2 linked regions of the Homo sapiens genome follow. The protein of the gene in region 1 interacts with the protein of each later gene in a biochemical or structural test. Each region holds a gene or a part of one and is shown in the gene's direction. Other genes may lie near its edges.

Region 1 (11,807 bases):
GATTTCATTTCTGTTCTTCTTCCGTTTGATCACTGCACTCCAGCCAAACTGGCCCCCTTTTCATTTACTTGAACAAATCAAGCTCACTGCTACTTCTGGACCTTATTGTTGTTGCTTTAATGTGGACTACTCTGCAGATCTTTGCATGGCTACTTCCTTTAGCTCATTCAGGTCTCTGCTCAAATGTCATGTCCTCAGGGAGGCCTTTTTGACCATTCTAGGTAAAGAAGAAGCCCCCTCTCCCTACTACAACCTATGTCAATTATACTGCAAGGCATGTATCACTATCCCAAAAGATATCATTTATTTAAATCCTTTTGGTCTGTCTCTGTACACTTAAGTGCCATGAAAGCAGCACAATTATTTGTCTCATTCACCATTGTATCACCAGTGTCTAGAAGAGGGCCTAGCTCAATACAGGTGTTCAATAAATGTTTGTTAGATAAACAGTGAATAGGACCACTGGTACACTGTGTTCTGTTGAAATCTGGTGCTACAAGGTGTACAGAAAGTGCTGGTCCATTGGTGACTCATATTCAGTGGCTCTTCAGGGGAGTAGCTCTTCAAGTCCACTTCCTCCATTCTTAGCTAAGCCAAGGGTGCTTCTTGCTTGGGCTCCTATTATTACAATTTCTAGTGCCCTGTTCTTCATAAGCATCCATCTCCTAGGGAGCTAGCTGGCTCCAGGACTGAGTTTCAGAAGTTGCTCTGGACTCTACTATTCCATGGACCCCCAAATCAGTGTGCTAATGGAGGATACCCTGGGTGAATCCAAGGCAGTTTCCTGTCACTTTCCTTGCAGAAAGAAAGGAGGGAGTTGAAGGGAAAAGGAGAGAAGGAAAGAAAGAAGGAAAATACAATAAAAATACAAATTACATTTCTTTGTGGTTACGTTTTGGAACAGTGATTCATTAATTAATGCATTTAACAAATGTGTATTGCTTGCCAACTATGCGTCAGGCACTCTTCTATGCACATTATTGCTATAATTGCCATGATCTCTATCATCTTCATCATACGTCTATATTAGACTGTGAATTTCTCAAAGGCAGAGATGGCCAGGCATGGTGGCTCACACCTGTAATTCCAGCATTTTAGGAGGCCAAGACGAGAGGATTACTTGAGCCCAGGAGTTCAAGACCAGCCTGACAACATAGGGGGATGCCATCTCTACAAAAAATAAAAAATTAGGTGGGCATGGTGGTGTGCGCCTGTGGTCCCAGCTATTAGGGAAGCATAAGTAGGAAGGCTTGCTTGAGACCAGGAGGTTGAAGTTGCAGTGACTTACGATTGCGCCACTGTACTCCAGCCTGGACAACACAGCAAGACCCTGTCTCAAAAAAAAAAAGCAAGCAGAGACAATCTTTTCATTGTAACAAGTGCATAGTAAATGTCTACTGCCTGAATGAATGAAACAGAGGAGAGAGTTAATGAAAGACATTAAAGAAGATTAGGCCCAGTTACATTTATATTCAGACAAAAACATAGAACGATTGTTCTTTAAATTGTACAATGTTATTATATTAAATTTTAAATGTCTTCCATGTTTTACATTTGTCTATTTAACATACTTTTTTTTTTTTTTTTTACATATTTGTAATTTTTCTTTCTTTTTTTTTTTTTTGAGATGAAGTCTTGCTCCATTGCCCAGGCTGGAGTGCAGTGGCATGATGTCGGCTCATTGCAATCTCCTCCTCCCAGGTTCAAGCAATTCTCTTGCCTCAGCCTCCTGAGTAGCTGGGATTACACGCAGGCACCACCACGCCCAGCTAATTTTTGTATTTTTAGTAGAGATGGGGTTACACCATGTTGGTCAGGCTGGTCTCAAACTCCTGACCCTGTGATCCGCCCACCTCGGTCTCCCAAAGTGCTGGGATTACAGACGTGAGCCACCACACCTGGCCCATATTTGTAATTTTACAAATAAAATGTATGACTCAACATATTTGTAATTTGACACCTTCTGTCTTTCTACTTAACATTAATGACAAACATTTTTTAGTGTTTGTTTTGATTTTGGTTTTTGTTTGTTTGTTTGTTTTGAGACAGTGTCTCGCTCTCTTGCCCAGGCTGGAGTGCAATGGCACGATCTCATCTCACTGCAACCTCCACCTCCCGGGTTCAAGCAATTCTCCTGCCTCAGCCTCCCAAGTAGCTGGGATTACAGGCGCCTGCCACCACGCCTGGCTAATCTTTTGTATTTGTAGTAGAGATGGGGTTTTGCCATGTTAGCCAGGCTGGTCTCAAACTCCTGACCTCAGGTGATCCACCTGCCCTGACCTCCCAAAGTGCTGGAATCACAGGCGTGAGCCACTGTGCCCAGCCCTGAGTGTTTCTACATTATCATTATCTTCATGGCTTTCTGTAATTTAGTAATTTCTCTTATTTTTGAAGCATTGTTGGGTTCCCTGTGGTCACTAGCAATGCAGACCCTGGAACAACTGGTCAGGTGTTTGTGCTTCTTCCACAAATGACAAAATGAAGGAGCACCCGGGAAAGTACATCTCATTCTGGAGGAAGAGATGGCACCACATGAGGAGCAGGCAGGGAGTCAATCCCAGGTGCACTTAGGAGAGAAGAAAGGCACATCCACCTGGTAAGCCGCTCTGAAATGAGTAGCGTGCAGGGTGATGTTGAGCTCTATTCTGCAGTTCGATCAACATGCTTCTACCTCTCGGCCCTCACATAGCAGCCTGCCTGGCTGCCATCTGCCAAGCTTTTGCTTTCCTTTCTGTTTTGCATAAGGCTTTTGCTTTTAATATGCTGCTACTGAGTACAGAAAAACAAGAGCGTACCAGACTTCAGGGATCTGCCTGTTTCTTTTCTGCCTTTTAATAGAGCTTAGCTCTTTTGCCACTTGTTATTGTCAAGTACAACATGAGTTCAGAGAAAGAATACTGCACCTGACCGGGGATGGATGCCACGCCTTGAAGAAATTGGCAGGAAACAGAAGAGGTTTATAGGATCTTCTCTTCTGCCACTCCCATCTTGGAAACAAGTGGAAGTACATTTGCAAAATTATATTGAAAAAAATGAGAAAATGCATTTTTCTTTATAGTCAACCCTTCTGACATGGACCTAGTTTCAAATGAAGTTATGAGGAAATGGCCCTTATGACTAAATGTTGATTCATGTGCTGTGAGCTGTGAACCCAGGATGAGAAATGGGAGGAAATCAAACTAAGGAATGGAAAGGGGGAAGTGCTCTGGGTGCCTTGCCTAAGAGACTGAACCCTCAAATCTTGGAAATAAACCATATTTTGTAAACCAGATAATTTAGACTTAGGTTATTTTGTGTGTCTCTTATTTGGTATCATTTATCAAGTTATGTTTTAAAAGTCTATAGCTTTGGGCTATAACATATATGCTTAGGCCAGAGTTTAATGGGGATCAACAGCATCCCTGGAAGCCTATATCTCTTCAGCAGGTATCGAGAGAGATCCTAAGAGAAAGATGATTCTGGTAGCGGTGACACCCAAAAATCAAAGTCCAAATTGAGTAGGGGCTCCTTTCCAACAGGCAATCTCTTGCTACAGTAAATCTTGGATGTTATTTAAATTTTATTTTATTTTTATTTCACAAAGTACACTAAGGCCAGGTGTGGTGGCTCATGCCTGTAATCCCAGCACTTTGGGAGACCGAGGTGGGTGGATCACCTGAGGTCAGGAGTTCAAGACCAGCCTAGCCAACATGGTGAAATCCCGTCTCTACTGAAAATACAAAACTTAGCCAGGTGTGGTGGCGCATGCCTGTAGTTCCAGTTACTCTGGAGGCTGACGCAGGAGAATCACTTGAACCTGGGAGGCGGAGGTTGCAGTGAGTCAAGATTGCACCACTGCACTCCAGCCTGGGTGACAGAGCAAGACTCTGTCTCAAAAAAAAAAAAAAAAAAAAGTACTCTATCCTTTAAGAAGTACACTCAAGCCCACAAGAATTCTTTTGAATATATTTAAAGTAACATGAGAAAATTAAATAAAAAACTTAAATAATGATATTTTCTACAAACTCTAGGATCAAGCACCAATTAAAGAGGATGAGTAGGCTGGGCGCGGTGGCTTATGCCTGTAACCCCAGCACTTTGGGAGGCCCACACAGGCGGATCACTTGAGGTCAGGAGTTCGAGACCAGCCTGGCCAACGTGGTGAAACCCCGTGTCTACTAAAAATACACAAATTAGTCAGGCGTGGTGGTGGGCATGTGTAGTCCCAGCTGCTTGAGAGGCTGAGGCATGAGAATCGCTTGAACCTGGGAGGTGGAGGTTGCAGTGAGCTGAGATCGCACCACTGCACTCCAGTCTGGGCAACCAAGCGAGACTCTGTCTCAAAAAAAAAAAAAAAAAAGAGAATGTGTAAAAGATAATGGAATTATTACATATTCAAGGTCTCATCTACCTTGACATTTCTATGATAGATGTCATCATTCATTCATTCACTGAACATTTACTGACTCTTAAGTGACAGGTATTATAGGCAGTGACTTGTACACTGTTGTTATCTATGTTGGTTTTTAATAATTTCAAAATGAAATACATTTTGATAAGCAAAGTCTAAGAGAGTGTGGCACAAACACTTTAACGCATATAAGCTCGGTGGCTCATGCCTGTAACCCCACCCAGCACTACCCACTCAGGAGCTTATCTATGCTCTGCCAGAATGTATGTTCATCCCTGGAAACCTCACTTGAGAGTGCAGAAGGAGGCTGATACCATCCACGCTCTTCCTATACTACACAGTCTTGTCTGAAATTTAGTCACCTTAATCACTGTTTACTATAAAGTTCCACAACTTAAACATCAGGCAATTACAGGATATGGTGTTTCGGCCCTAATGAACCTTGCAAATACCTGAAATACTCAGAATACTTATTTTCATTCCAGATCTACTCCTAAATTTAAGGGGAGCAGAAGAATGCGAATGAAGGCCAGTAACTATTGTGAATACTATACTAAATTGTCTGTAGGTAATAGCCACACATTGGAACACTAACAAAAGGAAAATGTATGCTTGATACTACTGAGAAACAATACTTTGTCATGCAGGAATCTATAGCATTCAAGCTGAGATGAAGGATTTGACAAGTTAATTTGTCTTCTCTCTTACCTAAGCATTTCTGCTGCTCAAATTCTGACTCCAAAGCAGTCTCTGAAATGGGCAGCCATGCTATGTACAAATTTTCACTGCTTTTGGAGTTCACCGTTTGTTTTGAGGACAGAAGACAAAAGATAGGAAGAAGAGTTTTCCTGGGGCCTGAATAGTGTTCTTCACTGGGAGAGGGAATTTATGGTTATGAGCCAGTGTTCAGTATCAGATCACAAGCGGCAGGGGCACCTATTTTTTTTTAAATTAATGTGTGTGTGTGATATGTAAGTTCCTTTAAAGCATGGAGTCCAGGATAGAAGTCTCTCTTGCCCAGGTCTAAGGGTGCGGGGGGAAGGGGGGGGGCGCGGCGGTGGGAGGGAGTACTTTAGTGATACTAGGAATTTAATGCCAAATGTATTTGCTGTGTGACCTAGATGGCTGAATTTTTTAAAAAGTTCTTCAGCATCGAGAAAAATCCAGTTAGACCGATAGCTTAGAGAGCTGTAGCTTATTTCTAAATTTGACTTTCCCTAAAACTAAGTGTAAATGTCAGTGATATGAGGACTTTTTAAAGAAACAAAATAAAGAAACAAGATACACAAAAATAGAGCAACTATGGCCAATCTTGTTTCATCCCTTTTCATCTATGACCTTACTCATACCCCTATCCATAATAAATGACTTTCAGCAAATCCTAGATGTTCTGCATCCTATATCTTTCTAACAGATATTCTTAAAAAGTATGACCACAATACCATTATCCAATTATTCCTTGTTCAACAAGCACTTACAATTTCATCCATGTGAAAGGCACCTCATGATTTTTACTTGAGGATGAAGATAATTTCTCATGAATTCTCATTGTTTTAAGTCACCTGAAGAGGTGTGATATGCTACAATAAATCTATTTGTAGGGCTTGGCTTCAAGAACTGAAGATTCTGGACCTAGCTGATCTGGTGACAGTGAACTTGAGACCTCTAATAGCGTTTAACTATTTTTTTTTAACTTTTGGAAAGCAAGGTGTAGGAAGGGGATTTAGTTTTTCCATTAGGTCGTGGCATGTTAAGACTTGTTTCTTTTTCCAAAATGTTCAAGTTGCTGAAGAGAACTATGGACTATGGGTCAGGAAGTCCGTCGGTTTCGGGTCACATTCCGCTCCCGCAGGCCTGCGGGCCGCCCCAGCTGGTTTGTTCCCGGCGTGTTAGAGGTCAGAGGCCGAGGCCGCACTCAGTGCCTGGGTCTCGCGCAGCTCCAGGGCTCTCAGGCGACACTGGGCGTTTCCTTTCCGGCTTCGGAAAGTTTTGTTTTGGTTCAAGGAAAGGCGCCCTGTTGACCAAAGGCTTCTCAGTCTCCTCCGGGTGGCCAGCGGCCAAGTTTCCTCCAGCCCAGCGAGTCCAGACTATAGTCCGTTCGAGATCCTCGAAGGCCGGGGAAGCGAGTCTTGTGAGGAGAGAAAGCGAGTGGGCAGCCAGCCTGCCGACTCCACTGCCGCTGGCTGGCCCTTCTCTTCCCTCTGTCCCTGGGCCAGTGCCCGTCGCACCACAAACAGTGCGAGCAGTCTCCCCGGTGACTCCTCAAGGACCCAGTTCTCCACCATTCCTAAGAGAACACTCAACCCAGCCGCGCCCGGGATGCAGAGAGATCTACCAACACCCGAGAATGGGGACAGGGCGCATGCGCACACCGTGGCCGTGGCGTCTAAGTGCTCGCCCAGCTGCGGCAGCCGCTAGGTGGCGCATGCGCCCTGGAAGGTGCGGGCCGGTCTCTGGGAAGAAGGCGGCGGCGGCGAAAGGCGGGGGTGCTGTGGGGGCCGGGCCGTGTTTACACAGCGGCGGGCGGGCGCGGACGCGGAACCCGGCGCGGCGGCGGCACGATGGTCATGGCGTATTTCGTCGAGAATTTTTGGGTAAGCTTAGGATGTTGGAAGTCGTGTGTTTCGAAGTCCAAGGCTTTTGGCGCCTGAGCTTGGCCTGCGTGCGCTTCGGGCGGCGGCGGCGGCCCCTCCGGCAGGGCGAGCGTCCTCCTGCCGCGTCCCGCCTGGGTGAGGTCCGGCGGGCGACCGGTCGCCAGCCTATAGGGACTCCCGGGCTCGCAGCCCTATGGGGACGGGGGCTGTCACCGCGGCCCGGGGGCCCGCAGCGGGGCCGCCGGCCACCGGGGCTGGGACAAAGCGCCGGATGGGGCGGGAGACGGGACCCAGCCCCACCGGAGGCTCCCGGTGCCGCGCTCCGCGCGGGGCGTGCGCGGCAGCTCGGACGCGAAGGACGGGCCCGCGGCACAGCCGCCTCCCGCTGCGCGCTGGCTGGGAGCGCCGGGCGGTGGGGTTTTGCCTCCTGCCCTCACCGCGGGCCCCCCATCTGAGCGATCCCTTTTACCTCTGACGGTTTCCACACCAAATCCAGTGCGGGGTTGGGCTGGACTAGCACTTCCTCTCAGCCTCGCAGCTCGGCTCGTGGGTTTGCGCCCAGGACTTTGCCTCTGGGCCTGTTCACAAAGCGTTTAAAAGTTGGATTTAATGTAACTGGACTCCTTGGGCTTAAATGCATGGAGACCTCCCCCTACTCTGTGCTCCTTCCCCTTCCTCATTCTTTCCACCCCTTGTCTTAGCTCAGTATTAGATTCTTCTTTGAGAATTTCTCCGGCTCCCGGTGGAGTATTTTTCTGCAGTTATTGTTTTTTTTTTTGTAATGGGAAGTACAGTTCAGCCATGTACAGGAAAGGAACGTGTTTACTCAGGTATCTTTCGTGAATCCCATTTTATGCCCTGACAGTTGCAAGTACTGCAGGTCCATTTTCGTTGAGATTTAGACATATTTAAAGGGGTAATCTTTTAGCTAGTAAGGAATGTATGTTAAATTCTTAATTCTAAGTGCCTCAAGCATGGTCTTGGTTAGTAATCAGATCAGTTCATAGTTATTTATTTGTCTTGAATGTACCTTGTTTTCCACAAAGAACGTATATACTAGACCTTAGGTGTTTTGTTTTTTAAACAGCTTTATTGAGTTCACATTTCCGTACCAATACACTCATTTAAAGTGTAGTACAATTCAGAGGTTTTTTCATATGTTCATAGAGTTGTGTAAACATCACCATATCAGTTTTACAACAATTTCGTTATCCCAGAAAGAATCCCTAGACCCATTAGCAGTCACTCCCCATTTTCCCCCTGCCCCAGGCCTAGGCAACTAATGTATTTTCTGCCTCTCTGCATTTGTCTAGTCTGGACATATCCTATAAATGGGGCCATGGTGACCAGTTTCTTTCACTTAGCATAATGTTCTCAAAGTTTATCCATGATGTAGCATGTATCACTACTAATTCCTTTTTATGGTCAAATAATATTCCATTCCACATTTTATTAATATTTATCCAATCAGTGATGGACATCTGGTTGTTCCCACTTTTGGGTTATGAATAATGCTGCATGAACATTTTTGTACAAGTTTTTGTGTGAACATATGTTTTCATTTCTTTTGGGAATGGGATTCCTGGGTCAAATCGTAGCTCTATGTTTAACATTTTGAGGAACTGCCATACTATTCTGAAGTGGTTGTAGCATTTTACAATCCCACCAGCAATATCTGAGGGTTCCTCTCCACATGCTCACGAACACTTATTTGTCCTTTTTATTATAATATAGTGAGTGAACGTGAAGTAGTATTAATATTTTATTGTGGTTCGATTTGCGTTTCTTTGATGCTTAACATCACAGTTAATGTGCTTATTGCCTATTTTTATATTTTCTTTGGAGAAATGTCTATTTAGATTAATTGCCCATTTAAAAATTGGGTTGTCTTTTTTTATAATTGAGTTGTAAGAGTTTTTTTTTTTTTAATATTCTGGATACACACCTTATCTGATACATAATGTGCAAACATTTTCTCCCATTCTGTGGCCTGCCTTTTCATTTTCTTGATGCTGCTCTTTGAAGTAACTCATAAGTTTTTATTTCTCGTGAAGTCTTGGTGAAGTCCATCTTATCTATTTTTTTCTATTACTTGTGCTTTTATTGCATCTAACCCAAAAATTATTTGCCTAACCCAAAAATTACGCCTTTTTTCTTGTTTTCTTGTAAGGGTTTTATAGTTTTACTTCTTCTGTTTAGTTCTATGATCCATTTGAAGTTAATTTTTGTGTATGGTGCAAGGGAAAGGTATAACTTCATTCTTTTGCAATTGTGTATCCAGTTGTCCCAGTACCATTTGTTGAAAAGGTTCATCTTTCCCCGTTGAATTGTGGTACCATTGTCAAATATCAATCGACCAGAAATGTATGGATTCATTTCTGTATTTTCAATTCTATTCCATTGTCTTCCCTTACGACAGCCAGTAACACACAGTTTGGATTGCTGTTGTTTGGATTACAAATTTGTTTTGTATAGCAAATTTGGAATCAGGAAGTATGAGTCCTCTAGCTTTTTCCTTCTTTTTCAGGATTATTTTGACTGCCCTGGGTTCCTTGCATTTCCAGATGAATTTTAGGATTAGCCTGTCAATTTTAGGCATTAGGTTTTACAATGGCAATTTATAAAATGTTTTAAAGAGCATTTAAAAATTGATGCTCTTGTAAATGTTATGCATATTTTTGATGCATGAATGTTTTTTAAGTTGCTAACTTAATTCCAAATTGCATCTTCACATTAAAAGTTATGTTTCGTTTTCTGTTAATTGAGCTTTGAGCATAGCTTTGTTTGATGTTTTTGGCTAATATGAATAATACTTCTCTGAATATCTTTCTACACATTTTTATGTGCTTCTTGGGTATTCTTGTTACAAGAGGGATGGGAATAAACTTCAATATTTGAATTCTGGAGAGACCTCCAAATCTAATTTATGTTTTAGTTTTTGCCTTCACTTTCACTATTGAAAACAAATAGTTAATAGACTGCATTTTATTTTATTTCCTGGCTTGGAATTGGGGCTGTGAGGAGGCTCAGTGAGCTAGGAAGGTCTAGGAATTAACTAAATAATTAACTTCCGAGAATTTATAGTTGTCATTTTAGGCTGGGCATGGTGGTTCACTCCTGTAATCCCAGCACTTTGGGAGGCTGAGGCAGGGGAATGGATTGAGCCCAAGAATTGGAGACCAGCCTGGGCAACACAGTAGACCTTGTCTCTACAAAAAATTTTAAAAAATTAGCCAAGTGTGGTGGCATATGCCTGTAGTCCCAGCTACTTGGAAGGCTAAGGTAGGAGGATTGCTTGAGCCCAGGAGTTCAAGGTTGCAGTAGGTTATGATTGGTCACTGTACTCCAGCCTGGGCAACAGAGTGAGACCCTGTCTCAAAAACAGAAAACTAAAAATTCACATATTTCAGGATCATTTATAAAATAATCCCTTAAAATAGATATTAATTTAACTCTTCCCTCTAGCATTTAAAGTGGAACTATTAAAAGGAAATAAAATTGTCAAAATTCAAAACATCGTGCTCTATATGATAAATATATATGTTTTTCATCAATTAAAAGATAAAAACTTGTCAAAGTGAGGTAGTGAGAACCTTTGATGTTTTAGGTCTGTCTTGTCTTGTCTTCTCTTCTCTCTCTTCTCTTCTTTCTTTTTTTTTTTTTTTTCTGAATTGCAGTCTCACCGTGTTGCCTGGGCTGGCACGCAGTGGCACGAGCATGGCTCGCTGCAGCTTCAACCACCCAAGCTCAAATGATCCTCCCACCTCAGCCTTCCAAGTAGGTGCGACCACAGGTACAGGCCACCATGACCAGCTGGTTTTTAAATTATTTGTGGAGATGAGATCTCGCTATGTTGCCCAGGCTGGTCTCGAACTCCTGGGCTCAAGCCATGTTTCCGCCTCAGCTTCCCAAAGTGCTGGGATTAAAAGGCTGAGCCACTGTGCCCAGCCAAAGTTTTAGGTTTCTAATCAAACAACCTATTAATTGTTTTCTCCCCTACATGTATAAAGACAAACCTTTTTTGTTGTGACATTTCATTAGAAGAAAGTTTGAATCGTTGAAACTCTCTTCAAGCTCTTTTGAAAGCAGCACATTCTTCCTTTTTCTTTAAAGTATAGGTTTTCTCAATTGAAACTATATGCTAAATTGAAAATTCCTTTACTTAATACTGTACTTTGAAGGAAAAATTATTCAAAACCTTTTACAGAACAGGTGTTTTGTTATTGATAAGTCAGTTTTTGCCACGAAGTATAGCACCATTGATAATCAAGCTGAAATTGGACAGCAAAATTAAAATTGGACGCAAAAATAATTTTACTAGTAGAAATTCACACCATTGCTTTTAATATGTAAAAACAATTGTTTTTTATCTTTATTTTTACATATTAAACATTATGTAACTTTAAAAAGATATTATAAAAGATTATGTAACTTTAAAAAGATATTGATCAGTATTACAGTGAGGAAGTGTCTAAGCCGCTGCTTTCTCAAAGGAATAATTGAGTACAAGTTTATAATAGTCTTGAGATTATAACAACATTGCTATGTAATAATTAAAATGGCATTATATTTTTATGTAAACCCAGATTATTCAGCAAAAAAACCTTAATGCATTTCATAGGTAATTATTAATGGGGGACAAATAAGTATGTAAAACATACCTGAGTTGAATAGCTTATAATCTTCATTTTACAGAGTAATCCCAATCTATATACGATATGAAGCATTCACCCAAAGACACTAAGTAGTATTCTTTAGTATATATCACATTGTAATGAGCTGAGATTTTTAGTTAGGTGACTTTTTCCAGAGGTTATCTATAG
Region 2 (11,190 bases), on another chromosome or scaffold:
GTGCGTTGGGTCAGGTGCTGGGAGCGCTGCATTCTTCCAGACAGACAAGGTCGCTGCTTTCCTGGAGGTGACACTCGTGGGAACTAGAAACTACCTGTGTTATGCTAATCACAGCTGCCTTTATTTGCTGAATACCTGTGTTGTGCAAAGCACCATATAAGCATTTTGCTAGAATGATCTAGCACAGCATGGTGATTAAGAGTGAGGACACAGGGTCAGATCATGTGTTCAAATCTTGGCTCCAGCCCCGATTTCTCTGTGCCTTTGGTTGAAGCTCTTAGCCATTCCACCCATCAGTTGCTTCCTTTGGAAAATGGAGATATAAAAATGTGTTGGGATTATGTGAAAATTAAGCACGTGAAAAAGCGCTTAGAACAGTGCCTAGCATATGAGAGGCACTCAGTGATCCTATAATTACTGTCATCATTTAATCTCTGCCAGATTTGGACGTTTGGGAGTAGAGACCGCAGCAATTAAGAATTCCAAACCCAAAGAGAGTTGATAGGCCGGTTGCATGCTTGCATGACTGGTTAGCTGATCCAAGGAGAGAGAAGTGCACAGCTAGCCAATTTGCAACACTGTCACTAAGTTAACAGTGCTAAAACCCGGTGATTATTAATTAGCAAGTTCTTGTTACTGACATGAAAGTGCTCTGTAAACTGTTAAGTGTCCTACCGATAATAGGTGTTAATAGCTAAGTGCTACAGTTTAGAGTATGTAGTCAGGGGGTGGGGGGCGGGGAAGGCGGGAGTCGGGGGAAAATCACCTAAGATCATTTCATGAGAAAGCACTAAGCACTCCCAGTTTGGGAGGCGTGGATCTTTCTAAAACTTCCTGTCCAATTTTTTTTTTTTTGAGATGGAGTATTGCTCTGTCACCCAGGGTGGAGTGCAGTGGCATGATCTCAGCTCACTGTAACCTCCGCCTCCCGAGTTCAAGTGATTCTCCTGCCTCAGCCTCCTGAGTAGCTGGGACTACAGGCACGTGCTACCACACCCGGCTAATTTTTGTATTTTTTTTTTAGTGGAGACGGGGTTTCACCATTTTGGCGAGGCTCGTGTCAAACTCCTGAACTCGAGTGATCCACCCGCCTTGGCCTCCCAAAGTGCTGGGATTACAGGCGTTAGCCACTGCGCCTGGCCAGGTCACTGACTTCTTAGCCTCTTCCTGTTCCTTTCCCTATACATTTGTTGAATGAAGGCGTGGCCTGGTTTTCTTCGTTTGGAAATGTCAGCACTTCTTTACACTTGCTCTCGAGTGAAAATCTACACCATGGGTTACTGTTGGCCCAGGTGTGAGGCATGGCCCTCCCAGGCCCTTACTGTCTAGCTCAGGAGATCACTTGGGTTCACAGATAACTCTGGGGGAACCAAGGGTATAATTCCAAAATTTTTGGTTGGGGGCAAAAGGGAAGCACCCTGCAGCAGGTGGCTGTGATCTGGTTGGATTTAGGTGACAGAGCACACTTGGCAAGCAGATGGCCAGGTGAAGGTGAGCAAAGTGGATAACCCAGCGGGCTAGCCTAGGGGAGGAGGGGTGTGTTTTCTCCACCCCCACTCCTGTCTGCACTTTTCCCATCAGCATCTTTTTCAGTCTGTTCTGTACTCCATGACATCATCTCAGAATCTCCTTCCTTATATACTCTTTTCTGACCCTGAATATCAACGTAAATTCGAAAGGTCTGCACCTCTGCCTCTTTAGGAGTGATTTTTTTTTCCCAACAGCATCTCAGTGATTTGTGTGTCTCCCTGTCCCCCTGCTCAGCTCTCTTCTGCTTTCCAAAAAGCCTTCCGTGGAAATGCATCCAGATCTCTTTCCTCCTTGTACTCCCCGAGGTTACCGGTGGCCCCTCCGTCCTTAACCCCGGTGCCCTGTGGCTGCAGCCGATCCTCCTCGAACTCCGCAACACTGGAGCCCGTCGGTCTTCACTCTTCATCCTCTCTCCTTTCAGTCTCTCCTTCTTGTCCCCTAATTTCAGCCTCCCTACCTGCATCTTATCTCTCTGTGCGCTCCCTCCCCTGGAGCTTCTGTGCAGAGGACTTCAAACCTGCCTTCTAGAGTCCAGAAGGTGTCTCTCTCCTGCACCTCTGCCAGCCTGCTGGACTCTGGAATGGGCCATTTCCTTGCCATGCCCCAAAGTGGTCTGGGCCATTCTACTTCCTACTTGCCCACTCCCTCCCACTTAATCCCACGCCACTGTGGAAGTCATCTTTTTGATTTTTGAGACAGGGTCTCGCTCTGTCCCCCAGGCTGGAGTGCAGTGGTAGGATCATAGCTCACTGCAACCTCAAACTCCTGGGCTCAAGCAATTCTCCCACCTTGGCCTCTCAAGTAGCTGGGACTACAGGAGCGCAGCACCAATCATACCCAGCTAATTAAACAATTTTTTTTTTGAAGAGATGAAGTCTTGCTATGCTGCCTAGGCAGGTCTTAAACCCCTAGCCTCAAGCAATCCTTCTATCTCAGCCTCCTAAAGTATTGGAATTACGGTGTCAGCCACTGCATCTGGCTAGGATTCATCTTCTAAAACATATTCCCCTGTTCCAAAAACCTTTCACAGCTCCCATTCCCCTTCCTCCAAAAGAACTCAGTTTATGGCTGGGCGCTGTGGCTCATGCCTATAATCCCAGCACTTTAGGAGGCTGAGGTGGATGGATTGCTTGAGGCCAGGAGCTCGAGACCAGCCTGGCCAACATAGCAAAACCCTGTCTGTACTAAAAATACAAAAGTTAGCCAGGCATAGTGGCAAACGCCTATAATCCCAGCAACTTGGGAGGCTGAGGCACAAGAATCGCTTGAAACCAGGCGGCGGAGGTTGCAGTGAGCTGAGATCGCGCCACTGCACCCCAGCCTGGGCAACAGGGTGAGACTCAGTCTCAAAAAAAGTCAGCTTTGATGACCTTAGTAAGCCCTGAATCGACTCCACCTAACCTTGCTGGGTCCCTTTCCTGCACTTCTGGCTCTTGGCAACACTTTCTAGCCTCAGCATCCTTAGCTGTGTTGCTCCGGTTGCTAGAACATCACTGTGAGCTCCTGCCGTATGCTGCCTGCCCTGAAGGACGGTCTTTGAGGCCTCCCCTGTGTTGTCCTCCCTTAGCCCCACCCGAATGAGAGTTCTCTCCCTTGTACCTTCCGTGGGTCCCTTTTGTGACCGCTGTACCTAGGAAGCGCGTGGTAACTGGGCTCAGTGATGAGGAGAGACTGCCCTGGGCCCAAAGAGCTACACCTTCCTCCTTTCCCCCTTGTTATGTGTTCTTCATCCAGGAGCTTTTGCTGTATTTCAGTAGGTGCCTCCATTCTAGGAGGCTTTTATTCCCCTTTTACAAGTGAGGAAACCAAGACCCACAGAAATAGAGTAACTTGCTGAAGTCTCATAGTTGGTGGGCGCAGAGCTGAGGTCACACCTGCGTCCTCCTGCCGCAGAGCCCTGCTGTTCCAGATGGCCTGCTGGGCACCTCTCCCAGAGCAGCACCCGGCCAGTGTGTCTGGAATGAATGCTGAGTGGCTCGGACACTTACTTGTCCTCTTGTCCCTTGTTTCTTTTCTTCCTCTGAAATAAGTGCTAGTCTATCTTAGTAGAATGCTAATGGCAATGCAGTCTAAATTGATGAGAACGAAGTTTTAGAGTAAAATCCACTCCTGAAAGATCCAGAATTCCCTGACTGTCACTTATTGACCTGCACTGGCCTGTTTTTTTTTTGTTTTTGTTGTTGTTGTTGTTTTTTCGACTAAATAGATTCTCCCTGGGCAAGACCCCTCCACCTCCATTCTGAACTTTAAAACAACTTTCCAGGCCGGGTGCAGTGGCTGACGCCTGTAATCCTAGCACTTTGGGAGGCTGAGGCAGGTGGATCACCTGAGGTCAGGAGTTTGAGACCAGCCTGGCCAACATGGTGAAACCTCATCTCTACTAAAAATACAAAACATTAGCCTGGCGTCCTGGCGGACGCCTGTAATCCCGGCCACTCGGGACCCTGAGGCAGGAGAATCACTTGAACCCAGGAGGCGGAGGTTGCAGTGAGCCAAGATCACTCCACTGCACACTCCAGCCTGGGCAACAAAGTGACACTACGTCTCAAAAAAAAAAAAAAGAAAAGAAAAGCAGGCACCATCAGGTGCAGTGGTGCCTGCTTTTCAATGTTTAGGTCCTTAGATGTTTGTTTGGATTCCCAGATATTCCTTCACTGCCCTCAGTCCTGCAAATACTTTCTGTACCTTAGTTTTCTCATCTGCAGAATGGTACTGTGGACTCGCTTGACCTGCTTTGTCACAGTAGAGTGTCAGGACCCTGCCGTGTGACGCATGTGCTCTCAGTGCTTTCCTTTTTTTTTTTTTTTTGAGACAGAGTTTCACTCTTGTCACCCAGGATGGAGTGCAATGGCGCTGTCTTGGCTCACTGCAACCTCTGCCTCCTGGATTCAAGCGATTCTCCTGTCTCAGCCTCCTGAGTAGCTGGGATTACAGGCGCCCACTACCACACCCAGCTAATTTTTGTATTTTTAGTAGAGATGGAGTTTCACTATGTTGCCTAGGCTGGTCTCGAACTCCTGACCTCAAGTGATCTGTCTGCCTCAGCCTCCCAAAGTGCTGGGATTACAGGCAGGAGGCACCGCGCCTGGCCCTCATGCCTGCCTTTTGTAGATCACACTGTTCGTTCAGTGAGTATTTATTTGGCATCTTCTTTTTGCTGGACACTTTCTGGGCAGTGGATGGAACAGTGAATCTGAAGGCAGTGCCGCCTCACGGGGCTGACATCGTTGGGAGGGGCCCAGATATAAAGAAATGAGCCCAATGTGTAGTGCATTCGGTGGGGATTGATGCTGTGAGATGAGTAGAGCAGGGCAGGTTCCGATCTGATGATGGAGGTCAGGAAAGGTCTCACCACCAGGCTGGAAGGACTGAGTAAAGAAAACATCATAGATTGCCTGGTTCATCCTCCCGGTCACTCTGGCCAGTATTATCTTCAGTGTATAGGGGCAAGAGGGGCAGATCACTGGAGGCCAGGAAGGGCAGATCACTGGAGGTCGAGAGTTCAAGACCAGCCTGGCCAACATGCTGAAACCCTGTCTCTACTAAAATACAAAAATTAGCCAGGCGTGGTGGCACATGCCTGTAGTCCCAGCTCCTCAGGAGGCTGAGGCAGGAGAATTGCTTGGACCTGAGAGGTGGAGGTTGCAGTGAGCCGAGATTGCACCACTGTACTCCAGCCTGGGTGACAGAGCAAGACTCTGTCTCAAAAAAAAAAAAAAAAAAAATAGATAAAGTGAGGCCAGAGATTGTTACGTCCCTTGCCCAAGTTTGTACCCAGTGAGCTCAGGCAGACATGGCTTTTCTGACACAGGTTCAGGCCTCTTCATTGCACCATAGTTTCTTGTCTTGGAAAGTTATTTTTTTGTTTGTTTGTTTTTAAGTTTATGACATCTCCTAACCTCATTTGTTTTTATACCTAGTTATTAGATATCATGTAGTCTGAGTTTTTATTTTATTACTTTAATCTCATCTCATTAAAAGGTAGAGAGGGACATGGAAAGGCCTGCTTATTGTCTTCCTTTTTCCTTTAGAGACAGGCTCTTGCTCTATTGCCTACGCTGGAGTACAGTGGTGCAATCAAAGCTCATTGCAGCCTCGACTCTTGGCCTCAAGTGAGCCTCCCACCTCAGCCTCTCAAGGAACTGAGACTACAGGCATGCAACACCACACCTGGCTAATTTTTAATTTTTTTGTAGAGACAGGATCTTGCTATGTTGCCCAGGCTGGTTTCGAACTCCTGACCTCAAGTGATCCTCCTGCCTCTGCCTCCAAAGCGCTGAGATTACAGGTGTGAGCCACCACTCCCAGCCAGTTGTCTTTAGGAGAATCCAAAGGTTTCCCTGCCAGAGTGGTAATCAGTGCTCCTGGCCCATGCAGAATTGAGTTGTCCAGGCCCGGCCCACAGCAGAGGCTCAGGTCACGGGTGGTCCAAGCTGCAGGAGGGGCAGATGACTGGCTTCCATTTGGGTGTTGGACATGGTTGTATGGAGGAGAGGGCGTGTTTGGTGTAGGCCAAGCTTGTCCAACCCATGGCTGCATGTGGCCCAGGATGGCTTTGAATGCAGCCCAACACAAATTTGTAAACTTTCCTAAAACATTATGAGGTTTTCTTGTGAATTTTTTTTTTTTTTTTGAGACTAAGTCTCGCTCTGTTGCCCAGGCTGGAGTGCAGTGGTGCAATTTCGGCTCACTGCAAGCTCCGCCTCCTGGGTTCATGCCATTCTACTGCCTCAGCCTCCTGCGTAGCTGGGACTACAGGCACCCGCCACCACACCTGGCTAATTTTTTGTATTTTTAGTAGAGACGGGGTTTCACTGGTTAGGCAGGATGGTCTCGATCTGACCTTGTGATCTGCCCGCCTTGGCCTCCCAAAGTGCTGGGATTACAGGCGTGAGCCACCATGCCCACCCGTGAATTTTTTAAAGCTCATCAGCTATCATTAGTGTTAGTGTTAGTGTTAGTGTTAGTGTTAGTGTTAGTGTATTTTATGTGTGGCCCAAGACAATTCTAGTGTGGCCCAGGGAAGCCAAAAGATTGGACACCCCTGGTCTAGGCCATGGGGAATAGCCTTTCACACGGAGGCAAAGAGGACTGAGCCAGAGCTGAGAGGCTGCAGGTCTAGGTCAAAGGGCCAAAACATGCGGCTGGGACTTTGGGGTTCATGTCCTTCCTTTAATTTAGGCAGCTCAGGGATGAGAGGAGGAAGGTCTTTTGGTAAATAAGACGTGAGAGTTTGTGTCTGGGCTACAAATCGGCCGAACTGACAGGATGTCTGCTTGCCGAGAGAGTGGCCAGTGGCTGGTGGGGGCTGAGGAGCTGAGACCTGCCCACTGTCCTTCGCGCTGGACTGGGTTTTACCGCTGGTCAGAGTGGTGGCCCTGAAGTTTGCTCCTGCATGGAGTGCAGACCATTAGCTCTTAAAGCTTCTTTGGGCTTTTCCCTTCATAGGAGTCCCAGCTCTTGATACTACAAGCTTTGGGGTGAAAGTAAAGGTCACAGATGACCACAGACATTTGTCTCGGATTTCCATCTGCACTGCCTGTGGTGTGGAATGTAGACCTGATAACAGAATCTGTTTACTGACTGCCTGCAGGTCAGGCTGACATAAAGTCACTTCTCCTCCTCTTGGGCACACCAGCCAGGCTGGATCAGGCGCTGCTACCGGCAGCTGACAGCACACCTGCTCCCCGTGTTTCCCAGGCCTGCAGTCCTCATTCCCTCTGCTCTGTGGCCCCCTGGCCCCTCTTTCTGTCATCTGCGCAGGCGATCCTTCATCTTGCCTCAAGGCGTTTGCATCTGCTATTCCCTCTCTCTGGAATGCTCTTTCCAAACCCTTCATCCTCTGGTGAATCCCTACACCTTTTCATATCAGCTGGGGCATCACTTCCTCAGGGAAGCCTTTCCTGACAAACTGGCCCAGCATCTCTGTTACCACTGGTGGAGATGGACACCTTTTCCATTTAGCCGTTTATAATTTTCTCTTTGCGGGGTTGATTGATGGTCTGTCTTCCCCAACCACCTAGACTAGGTCCACAAGGGCAGAGACTGTGCCTGTTTTATTCATCCTTGTTTGCCAGGCTGCAGCTGGCACTCAGGTGCTCAACAATCATCTGTTGAGGGAAGAGTAGCATGGGCCACATTATGAGAGGCAGTAGGGAGCTATGGCAGGTTCTTGAGGAGTGACACCTTTAGATGATCTGGCTGCTTACACAGGGAGTGCTTGGAGCTGGGTTCTAGCTCCGAGACAGTCTCTGTGATATGGGCATGAAGTGATCAAGAGGAACCTGGCCTGAGGTTGTTTCAGGAAGAGTAGAAAGGGCTGGGGGTGAAAGGAATATGTGGGGTAGCTGTTTGGACAGGTGAGGGTCTAGGTGGGAGAGGAAGCAGGGGGAAGAAGCAGGCATAGTGTCTGCAACCGTCAGGTTGAGGCCACCTTCAGGGAGCCAGGACAGCAGCAGTGGGAGTGCCTGGTGGGCAGAGCCTGGTGGGCTGTGGCTGTGTCAGTTGAGTCAAAACCCATCACTTTGCAGGAAACCCTCCAAGCCACGTGAGACCCCACATTTAGGTACAGTCAAAAAGAAGACCAGCTCTGGGGCTGGGGCACCATGAGATTCTGTCTGCTGAGCTACTGTGTGCTGTCTTGGGACCAAGATAAATAAAACCGAGCCCCACCCTCCAGGTCAGCTCAACTGCAGCTGGGCACCCAGGCACACAGAAAATTAGGACATAGTGTGACACACTCGTGGAAGTCAGGTGGCACCCACAGCGGTGGGATGAATCACCTCCACTGGGCTGGGAATAAAGGACAGGAGGAAGAGGGCGCCTGTGCCTCCTTTTGTCTTTTCCCTCCTCTGTTCCAACAGGCCTGGAGGAAGCAGCTGGGTGCAGCCTCTCTGACTGGCTGTACACTGCGTGGACCAGTGTCCTGCCCCCACCCTTTGCACAGGCCCTGTCTCCCACCACCATCTTCACAGCTTCCTGGCCCCCTCTCTGCCTTCTCAGAGTCCCACTTCCCTGATTCTTTGTTTTACTTTATTTTTTCTTGAGGTGGAGTCCCGCTTTGTCACCCAGGCTGGAGTGTAATGGCATGATCTTGGCTCACTGCAGCTTCCGCCATCTGGGCTCAAGCAATTCTGCCTCAGCCTCCCAAGTAGCTGGGATTACAGGTGCACACCACCAAGCCTGGCTAATTTTTTTGTATTTTTGTATTTTTAGTAGAGACAGGGTTTCACCATGTTGGCCAGGCTGGTCTCGAACTCCTGGCCTCTAGTGATCCACCCACCTTGGCCCCCCAAAGTGCTGGGATTACAGGTGTGAGCCACCATGCCCTCCCCCCCACTTCCCTGATTCTGGTAACCTGGTCTCCCAGAACAGGTGGCAACGGGACCCCAGCCCTGGTGGTACCCTGACTGCCCTCACCAGTGAGTGGGCCCAGGCAGGCAGCTCTGGGCCCTGGGGAGAGATTTGGGGCACAGGTCTGATGCAGGAGTGAGGGAATGTTGTGGGACCAACAATGGTGCCATTGTCCCTGTGCTTGTTTCTAGATGAGGAAACTGAGAGGGAGAGAGGTAAAACAACTGGTCAGACCCCCATGGAGAACAGGCGTCTGAATCAGACCATGGGCTCCAAAGCCACCATTTTGTCCTATGATTGCCACACCATGGGCTCCGGGAGGGTCGAGGAGCTCTGTCTTTCCTGCTCCCTGCTGGGTTCCCAGCCCCTGAAATCTGGGCTCCTGGCACATAGTAGGCTGGTGATATCTGTTGATTGGAGGCTGGGTACTTGGAACAGCAGCCAGGAGCGCAGTCTGTCTCTCCAGCTGTCTTTGAGGGTAGTTGACAGAAGGGAACGTTTTGTCTCTTGGGTGAAGAAACAGGCACAGGGCCCAGAGCCGCCTGCTCGAGCCCACTGGCCGGTGACAGCAGTCAGGGCACCACCAGGGCTGGGGCCCTGCTACCTCCTCACCTCCGCTCATCAGAGGGTGAGGAAAGGGCTTTCCTCTTGTGTAAGTGACATCAACAAGTGTGCCTCTGTCATTACGCCAATCTGTAGAAAACTGGCTTTTCTTTCTTTCTTTCTTTCTTTTTTTTGAGACAGAGTCTCACTCTGTGACCCAGGCTGGAGTGCAGTGGCGCGATCTCAGCTCACCGCAACCTTTGCCTCTTGGGTTCAAGTGATTTTCCAGCCTCAGCCCTCCGAGTAGCTGGGACCACACGTGTATGCCACCACACCCTGCCAATTTTTGTATTTTTTGTAGAGATGGGGTTTCTCCATGTTGCCTAGGCCAGTTTCGAACTCCTGAGCTCAAAGCGATCCACCTGCCTCGGCCTCCGAAAGTGCTGGGATTGCATGTGTCAGCCACTATGCCCAGCTGGCTTTTCTTTCTTTCTTTTTTTTTTTTTTTTTAAGAGACGGAGTCTTGCTCTGTCGCCCAGGCTGGAGTGCAGTGGCGCAATCTCGGCTCACTGCAAGCTCCGTCTCCCGGGTTCATGCCATTCTCCTGCCTCAGCCTCCTGAGTAGCTGGGACTACAGGCGCCTGCCACCACGCCCGGCTAATTTTTGTATTTTTAGTAGAGACGGGGTTTCACCGTGTTAGCCAGGATGGTCTCGATCTCCTGACCTCATGATCCGCCCGCCTCGGCCTCCCAAAGTGCTGGGATTACAGGCGTGAGCCACCGCGCCTGGCCCCAGCTGGCTTTTCTTAATCTGAAGAGGACGTGCTTTTCAATTTTATATTTTCCAGTGGAAGAGAAAACTATCTCATTTCACACTCTCCAAAGGGGAAAGATGAAACACGAAAAAACTTGATGATGAGGCCCTCACACTGAGCGTGTTTAACCAGGACTGTACGGTTATGGGGATGGACTGTCCCCCTCAATTCCCCCCACACCCTACAAATGGCACTGTTTGTGGTTGGGGGGTCCCAGACACGATTGGCCTAGGCGCATGTTCTTGCAAACGTTCTTCCCTTTGAGTTTTTTCTTTGCTGAGAACTAGAACGCTCTGTGCCCGCGGCACCCCCGTGCTGGCTTTGGAAACTTTCTCTGTGGGTCGAGGCTTCTGGAGTGGAGGAGCAGGCTCCACAATTGCTGATGGGCTGGGCAAGGTTGTCCATCACCAGGGTGCAAATTGTTGCTGTTATTTTGCTTGCTCACACCAGGCCATGGAGTTGGCATTTTCTTTTAGGCCAGCCTCTGAGTTGGCATTTATAGTCAGTTGACTTTATTGATTTAATTTGTTGTTGTTGACTCTTAGCCACTAGAAAATGTCCTTTAATTCACATTTAATGCACATTTAAAATGTCCTTTAATTCACACTAAGTGGGTTTTTACAGGTGTGTACTTATCTGCTGTGTGTAAAATTGTATTTTTTTTAAGAAAATGACAGCTGAGACTAAGAGAATTGGTGAAACACTGTTCTTTTTTTATTTTTAGAGACAGGCTCTGTCGCCCAGGTTGGAGTGCAGTGGTGCCATCACGGCTCACTGCAGCCTCAGACTCCTGGGTTCATCCTCCTGTCTCAGCCTCCTTAGTAGCTGGGACTGCAGGTGCTCCTCAGCACACCACCACGCCCAGCTAATTTTCTGATTTTTAATTTTTGTAGGGCTAGGGTCTCACTGTTTTGCCCAGGCTGGTCTTGAATTCCTGACCTTAAGGGAT

The links.
Region 2: the proteins of FCHO2 (region 1) and EPS15L1 form a complex in vitro, tested with the Homo sapiens proteins (one study listed by BioGRID).

What each region holds. Positions count from the first base shown.
Region 1 is NC_000005.10:72,949,146-72,960,952, forward strand, and holds the start of FCHO2 (F-BAR domain only protein 2), read left to right. Parts: upstream 1-6,895; 5' UTR 6,896-6,951; coding exon 6,952-6,984; intron 6,985-11,807. UniProt on the Homo sapiens protein: Functions in an early step of clathrin-mediated endocytosis. Has both a membrane binding/bending activity and the ability to recruit proteins essential to the formation of functional clathrin-coated pits.
Region 2 is NC_000019.10:16,460,052-16,471,241, reverse strand, and holds part of EPS15L1 (epidermal growth factor receptor substrate 15-like 1), read left to right. Parts: intron 1-11,190.